Homo sapiens: one gene and its partner. The protein of the gene in region 2 purifies or fractionates together with the protein of the main gene of each other region. This does not show direct contact. Each region holds a gene or a part of one and is shown on either strand. Other genes may lie near its edges.

Region 1 (3,500 bases), on a different chromosome or scaffold from region 2:
GAGTTTTAGTCCTGCTTCCTCCACCTGCATTACCTTCCATGAACTTCAGTTTCCTTATCCTCAGAATGAGGGTATGGGCTTATTTCACAGAACCCTTATAAGCCTCAAGTGGGATAAAGTATCAGCAATGGTTTACAATCCTTGAAGTGTAAGGTCAATGTAAGGTGGAACCTGTATTCATTGCCAGGGAATCCTCAAGAATAAGTCAGGAGGTAAAACCAATGGATTCAAGCAGCAGGGCTTCTAGAGGCCTAAAGTTAGAGCAGCCAGGAGCAGCTTTCTGCAGCAACTGGTAAAGCAACTACTTGAGAAATTCTGCCATGCCTCTTTAGCATGGGCAGCAACTAGAGGGCCCCCCATCTACCACTTATCTCTGACCTTGCATTCTCCTGCCTGTGTCAGGGCAGAAGAAGGGGTACGAAGTAGGTCCACCTCTTGGTAATGCTTTTTTCTGACACAGCTTGGGCAGAAGCCCCAAACTCAGAATCTACACATGATACTTTCATTTATAATATATACTTTTGAATTTCTGTTTTAAAATCTTTTTTCATCTAAGATTTTAATGAACTTATATTTCTATTAATTAACATATTTCTTTCCACTATTTAACGTAGAAATTGTCTAGTACCAAAACTTAATTTATCATATGTATTTTAATTTCTACTTGTGAGATCTAGAGGCTAAATGAACTCATATAAGAATATAAAGAAAGCACCATTAACCACAGTGATTAACTTGCAGGGATTTACCTGCAGTGATTAACCACAAGGACTCAAGATCACCGGCTGGGGAATCCCAGCCTCACTCTTAATGAGCTCTGTGACTTTGACCAAATAATCATACCCCTCTGTGCCTGATTTTTCCTCAATATGGGACTAATAATAGTGCCTACCTCTGAGGAAAGTTATAAATTAACTGTAGTGGGTTAATATTTGTAAAGCACTTAGAACAGTGTCTGATACATAGTGCATATTGAATAAACTGCATCTCTCAATCAAATATTGATGGGAAACAATGTTTTCACAGACATGGTCTGAAGTTATTATAAAGCACATGCTTCCTCTATTTTCTTATCTTATATGCAGCATATATTATTTTGACCCTTGATCCTAATCATAAGATTAAAAAACGAATCCAAAGACTATCATGAGCTTATGCTACTACTTATAAACAAATTTGAAAAAAATTAAGAGGTGTACTCTGCATGGTGACTTTATGTAACTGTTGGCCAAATCTCATATTTGAGCTGTCGATATTACCTTTGGAATAAACCTAAATTCTAATGACTGAGACTCAGTTAGGGTTGCTAGCTTGAAATGGCACAAACAATAAACACAACCAGCAGCCAACTTTCTTCCCCACAGTATCTTTTGCCAAGCTTAACACCAACCTACTTTTACTCATTTAATTGCCATTTATGAGAAGGTAACAAACAAAAGGTACTTGTTAATTGTGTTTCTTTTTGTGTGTGTTAGCTATGGGTGCAACCTTTACTTGTCTATAACATGCCAGTGAGAGAGGTCGGGGACACTGCAAATGGATTCTGATTCTCTGCCCCATTTGTATGTCCTTGGGCCTCCTGGTACTTTGTCAAAATGTATGCTTTCATGAGATATTTATGAATCCATCAGTATTCTGAACACATTTAAATGACAAATCATGAATAAAATATATTATGTGTCACATTACTAGCATTACTTCAAGCTCTGTAAAGGGAGTTCTTGCATAGGTAACAATATATTGATAGGCTCCATCATTTTAAGTGACATTTTGTTGTTACAAATATGGTTCCTTCAAGCTTTAAATTTTTTTTGAAAACATGAATTAAGTTATGGTTGTTTATTTTTTTTTAAGTAGTAGGTGAGGTACTAATTATGGCAGAAACTCTTAAACTATTCAGTATCTCAGTAACCACACTATAGTATATACTGTATACTGGCTGAATAATTAGCAACTCAATCTAGGTCTCTGTTATGAGGGGTCATTGCTTCTCTTCCACTGAACGGAACAATCCAGAAGATGCACAGTGCTGTAAAGGCAGCACTAAGCAAGGGCTCACTCTCTAGAGGGAAGACTTCTCATATATTTGAATCTGTACAGGTATGTTGATGAGGCATTTGGGTTAGCCCAATGCAGCTATGTTTTAAGGCAACTGTAAATGAGCTAATGAGACTCATAAGCAATTCGCTGGTCATTCTTGCTAAGCTCCTCACAAGCATTAGACAGTCATACATCCTGTATCTTGAAAACTCACTTTGGGACAAGTTTTTCAAGGTAGACAGAAGAACACACCATTCAAGCTTCAAACGATCTTCTCATGTTGACCAGACACAGATTTTCAATACATAAATCACTTTTCTTCTGCATGGACATTCCTGAAACATAACTGACCCCTTAGCTGAACTCAAACTTTAAGACAGATGTGTGTGTGTGTGTGTGTATGTGTGTGTATGTATCTTTTTTAAGAGATGGGATCTCGCTATGTTGACCAGGTTGCTCTCAAACTCCTGGCCTCAAGTAAGTGATCCACCTGCCTCCACCTCCCAAAGTGCTGGGATTATAGGTGTGAGCCACCATGCCTGGCTCAGATATGTATTTTTAATGTTCATAGTAAGATATGTATTTTGAATGACTATTAGGAATTAGAAACTATTTCAATATCTAATATGTTTACTACATTGTTTTAATTGTGGACAAATACTACAGCAGCAACTCACTATCTCAGCTTACAAAAAAGATGTACTCATTTATTATTACGATTATTTTAGAGACAAGGTCTCACTCTGTCACCCAGGCTAGAGTGCAGTAGCATGATCATAACTCCTGGGCTCAAATGATCCTCCCACTTCAGCCTCCCCAGTAGCTGAGACCACAGGTGTGTGCCACCACACCTGGCTAATTTTTTTTTTTTTTTTTTGGATAAGCAGGGTCTGAGTTTGTTGCCTAGGCTGTCTTGAACTCCTAGGCTCAAGCAATCCTCCTGTCTCAGCATCCCAAAGTGCTGGGATTACAGGCATGAGCCACCATGCTGACCTAAAAATAAGATTTATAATCAAAAGCCATACATTCTGGCAAAACTATTAATGAAAAAGGGAGTATATATGTATTTGATTTTTTTTTTTTTTTTTTTTTAGACAGAGTCTGGCTCTGTTGCCAGGCTGGAGTACGGTGGCACAATCTTGGCTCACTGCAACCTCTGACTCCCTGGTTCAAGTGATTCTCCTGCCTCAACCTCCCAAGTAGACGGGATTACAGGCGTATGCCACCACGCCCAGCTAATCTTTGTATTTTTAGTAGAGACGGGGTTTCACCATGTTGACCAGGATGGTCTGGATCTCCTGACCTTGTGATCCGCCCACTTTGGCCTCCCAAAGTGCTGGGATTACAGGTGTGAGCCACCACACCTGGCCCAATATTTTTTTAAAAAAGAGCTAAAGAAGAAAAAAGAAGTGAACTCAAGTTTCGAAGGTCTTACTAAAGGTCCCCAAAAGGGTTTATGT
Region 2 (4,118 bases):
TGATCTTGGCTCACTGGAACCTCTGCCTCCTAGGTTCAAACAATTCTCCTGCCTCAGCCTTCCAAGTAGCTGGGGTTACAGGCATGTGCCACCATGCCCGTCTATTGTATTTTTTTTAGTAGAGACGGGGTTTCACCATATTGGTCAGGCTGGTCTCTATCTCCTGACCTCAAGTGATCCACCTGCCTCGGCCTCCCAAAGTGCTGGGATTACAAGTGTGAGCCAACGTGCCCAGCTGGAAAAAGATAGATCTAAGCAGCTTGGGTAACTATAAATGGAAGCAGCAGGGGGATTTGAGACCCCTGCTTGGGGCCTTTCTGGCCCAATATACCAGGGCTTAGCAAACTTTTTAAATAAAGAGCCAGATAGTAAATATTTTCAGCTTTGCAGGCCATACTGTCACAACTACTCAATTCTGCAGTTGCAGTGCAAAAGCAGCCATAGACAATATGCAGATAAGTGTGGCTGTTTTTAAATAAAACTTATTCATGAACACTGAAATATGAATTTCATATAATTTTCCTATGTCACACAAGCTTCTTTAAAAAATGTTTTTATCATAAAAAATGTAAACAAACATTATTAGCTTGGGGGAAGGGGAGAAGCATGGAAAAAAATCAGACATCTGGCCAAATTTGGCCCATGGTTTGCCCATCCCAGCTTTAGACAGATTTCCAGGTAAGAGCAAATGGGCCAGGAGTGGACTGTAGGGCTTGGTTCAGTGAAAGCCTCTCTATCCATGCAAGTATCTGAATTTTCAAACACCTTTCACATTTCATTGTCAGCCGAGATAAATTAGAGGGAAAAGATATCTCAGGCAAAGAGACTTATTTAATAATTAATGGTTATTGATTTATTACAATTTTATAAATTAATTTACTAATTTACAAATAACTTTCTGAGCTCTTACATGTGCAGGCACTGTGCTAGGCCTGTTACAAACTCTGGAGAACTGAGTTATCCCCATATACAGATGCAGATACTGAGGCCCTTTGGGGTGGGTGACAGCTCAGATCCCACAGCTAGTGTGGCACAGGCAGGAACGAAGCCCGGGGTCTTTTGATGGTAGCTGAACCGCACCCAGACACCCACCCGTGTCTGCCAGCACTCCGTATTGGCTGGGAAACACTCCCTGAATCCAAAGGTGCCTGTTTAGTCAGTTACCAGCCAGTGGTCCTCAAGTGTCCCCACCTGTAAGATGGGGGCGCCCTGCCCCAGTACTGCAGCCTCGCGACCCCCTGGAGGGTGGGGGACGGTAGCTCAGGCGAGAGTCTTCCGGCTGCCCCGGGGAGGGAGGAAATGAGCCGGCGGCAGGGGCGGGTTTTCGGCGGGGCCAACCCACGGTGGGGGGAGCGCGGCCATGGCGCTCCTGCTTTCGGTGCTGCGTGTACTGCTGGGCGGCTTCTTCGCGCTCGTGGGGTTGGCCAAGCTCTCGGAGGAGATCTCGGCTCCAGTTTCGGAGCGGATGGTGAGCGGCGCGGGCGGGCGGCAGGGGATCGGGCCCGCGGCGGCGTGTGCTCCGCCCTGCCGCTCCTCGCCCCCGGCCCGGCAGGCCGCCTTCGGGCTTCCGAGGCTCAGCTGGAGCTGGGGGAAAGCGCCTGGCTTTCGACTGAGGCGCAGGTCCTGCCTGGGGAGTTCCTCGAGTTCTCTGGATCTTCCCTAGACGGAAGGGGACAGAACCTCCCCTTCCTGCAGAATATTGGTGGCCCCAGGCAAATCTAGAGCCTTAGGAGGTCCCTCCCACCCCCCCGGACCCTGGGGGAGGATGATGCGGTGGGAAAATGAGCTCACTTCCCGCTCTCTTCCCTCTTTTCGCCGTTTGCTTCAGTTTTTGGGAGGTTCGTGGGGTTGGGGTGTAGTAATCCTGGCTTTGCAGGGAAGGAAGCCCGCCCTGAAGGGCAAGTATATCTGCTAAAGATTGCACATCTAGTCAGGAAGCAGGACACAAGCTAGACACTCCTAACTCGGAACCCAGAGAGGGAAGCCTCTCTCGGAAGCCTGAGAGGGATGCCCTGAAGTCGTCTTTCAGCCTTCTGTCTAGTTCCAGACTCATGGGAAAGCTTTCATATCCTGTTCACCAATCTCCCCAGTCCCTCAAAAGAGCCAGACTTGTAGACCTCTGCTGGCATCTCTCTCCAAGGCCTGGATAAATCCCCAGAGACAGACAGCTTAGAGCTGCTTCCCAGCAGAGCTGAGGAGGGGAGGTAGAGCTGAGGAGTGGGAACAGGAAAAAGTATCCCCGAAAGTAAGGATGAAGTTGTCATTTGGCTCAGGGGAGGGCCTGCCTTGACAAGAAGAGTCACTTTGAGCCCACCTAACTCTGCCTCACCTCCAAATATTCCCTGTACAGCAGCCTTAAGAGAAACCAGGCCAGACACAAAGAAGGAAACTGTGGAATTCCCCAGGCCTTGGCACTAGGGAGCCAAGCCCAGCCCCCTCCTCCTGGGATTTGGGGCTGGGTTGTAATCTCTTGAGAGGTCTAGTGAGAAGATCAATCTCTGTACCACTTGGAGCATGGAGCCTGTTTCCTGATTCCAAAGCTCAGCGCCACAGGGCAGCCCTCTCCTCTTCAGGCTGACCTCAGCCCTGGACCTGACCTAGAGTAGTAGTTCTTTTCTCTGGGAAGTTGAGGGCACAGGCATAGATATGCCATGGAGCATCTGGGGAGCTCATCCTTGTTGAACAATGAGGCTAACAGGCATTCCTTGCCACCCCTAGAATGCCCTGTTCGTGCAGTTTGCTGAGGTGTTCCCGCTGAAGGTATTTGGCTACCAGCCAGATCCCCTGAACTACCAAATAGCTGTGGGCTTTCTGGAACTGCTGGCTGGGTTGCTGCTGGTCATGGGCCCACCGATGCTGCAAGAGATCAGTAACTTGTTCTTGATTCTGCTCATGATGGGTAAGGGGGCCAACTGGCCTGAGAAAATGGGGTCTTCTGGGGGAGGATTATGGAAAGACCTGGCTGTTCCCCCTTACTGTTGCCACCCTTCTTTTTTCTCTGGGATCAAGAGCACTTTCTGCTCTACCACAGTTTCCATGGTCTTCAAACTAGCACAGGTATTTTTTTTTTTTTTTTTTTTTTTTTTTGAGATGGAGTCTCGCTCTTTCGCCCAGGCTGGACTGCAGTGGCACTATCTCTGCTCACTGCAACCTCCGCCTCCTGGGTTCACACCATTCTCCTGCCTCAGCCTCCCGAGTAGCTGGGACTACAGGCGCCTGCCACAGCGCCCGACTGATTTTTTTGTATTTTTAGTAGAGACAGGGTTTCACCATGTTAGCCAGGATGGTCTCGATCTCCTGAACTCGTGATCTGCCCGCCTTGGCCTCCCAAAGTGCTAGGATTACAGGCTTGAGCCACTATGCCCGGCCTAGCACAGGTACTTTTTAAACTTAATGTGCTAGAACATTATCACATGTTAAGTGTACCTTCTACCTCCTCAATTCTAATGGCTGCATAGTATTGCCTTGTGAAGATATATTGCAAGCTCAGCGCCTCTGCTCCTTCCTCCACACATCCACTCCTAGGATGAGGGGATGGAGGAGCAGCTGCCATTTGATGCATGTGTCTGGCAGATTGGTGTAGAGAGCAGGGAAGCTGGAGAACCTTGAACAGGAAGGCAGAGAATTTCCCTAGGGAGTCCCCCTCAAGTAGCTCTGCCCACAGGAACTGCTGATGTACAAAGACAGCTGTTGCTTCAAAGGCCAGATATCTTCAGGCTCTTCTATATGCCCTGGCATCTGTTACCATTGCTGCCACTGCTACCAGGCTTGCTTCCATCTCTGGAGCTTCTCCCATTTTCAGATCTTTCCCATACCTCCAACCAACAGCCCCTGGGCTAGTCCTTCCCTCCATCTTAATCTTAGTAGATGTAGGATTAAGAAAGGAGAAGGGGCCAGACACGGTGGCTCATGCCTGTAATCCCAGCACTTTGGGAGGCCGAGGCGGGCGGATCACAAGGTCAGGAGTTCAAGACCAGCCTGACCAACATGATGAAACCCCGTCTCTACTAAAAATACAAACATTAGCCGGGCGTGGTGGTGCGCGCCTGTAATCCCAGCTACTCAGGAGGCTGAGGCAGGAGAATCGCTTGAAGCCAGTACCCAGAACCCAGTAGCCC

Evidence for each region.
Region 1: the proteins of TMEM35B (region 2) and CRYBG1 purify together in Homo sapiens (affinity purification with mass spectrometry; one large-scale study listed by BioGRID and IntAct). This does not show direct contact.

Annotation. Positions count from the first base shown.
Region 1 is NC_000006.12:106,367,217-106,370,716, reverse strand, and holds part of CRYBG1 (beta/gamma crystallin domain-containing protein 1), read right to left. Parts: intron 1-3,500. UniProt on the Homo sapiens protein: May function as suppressor of malignant melanoma. It may exert its effects through interactions with the cytoskeleton.
Region 2 is NC_000001.11:34,982,548-34,986,665, reverse strand, and holds the start of TMEM35B (transmembrane protein 35B precursor), read left to right. Parts: upstream 1-1,318; 5' UTR 1,319-1,360; coding exon 1,361-1,468; intron 1,469-2,718; coding exon 2,719-2,899; intron 2,900-4,118.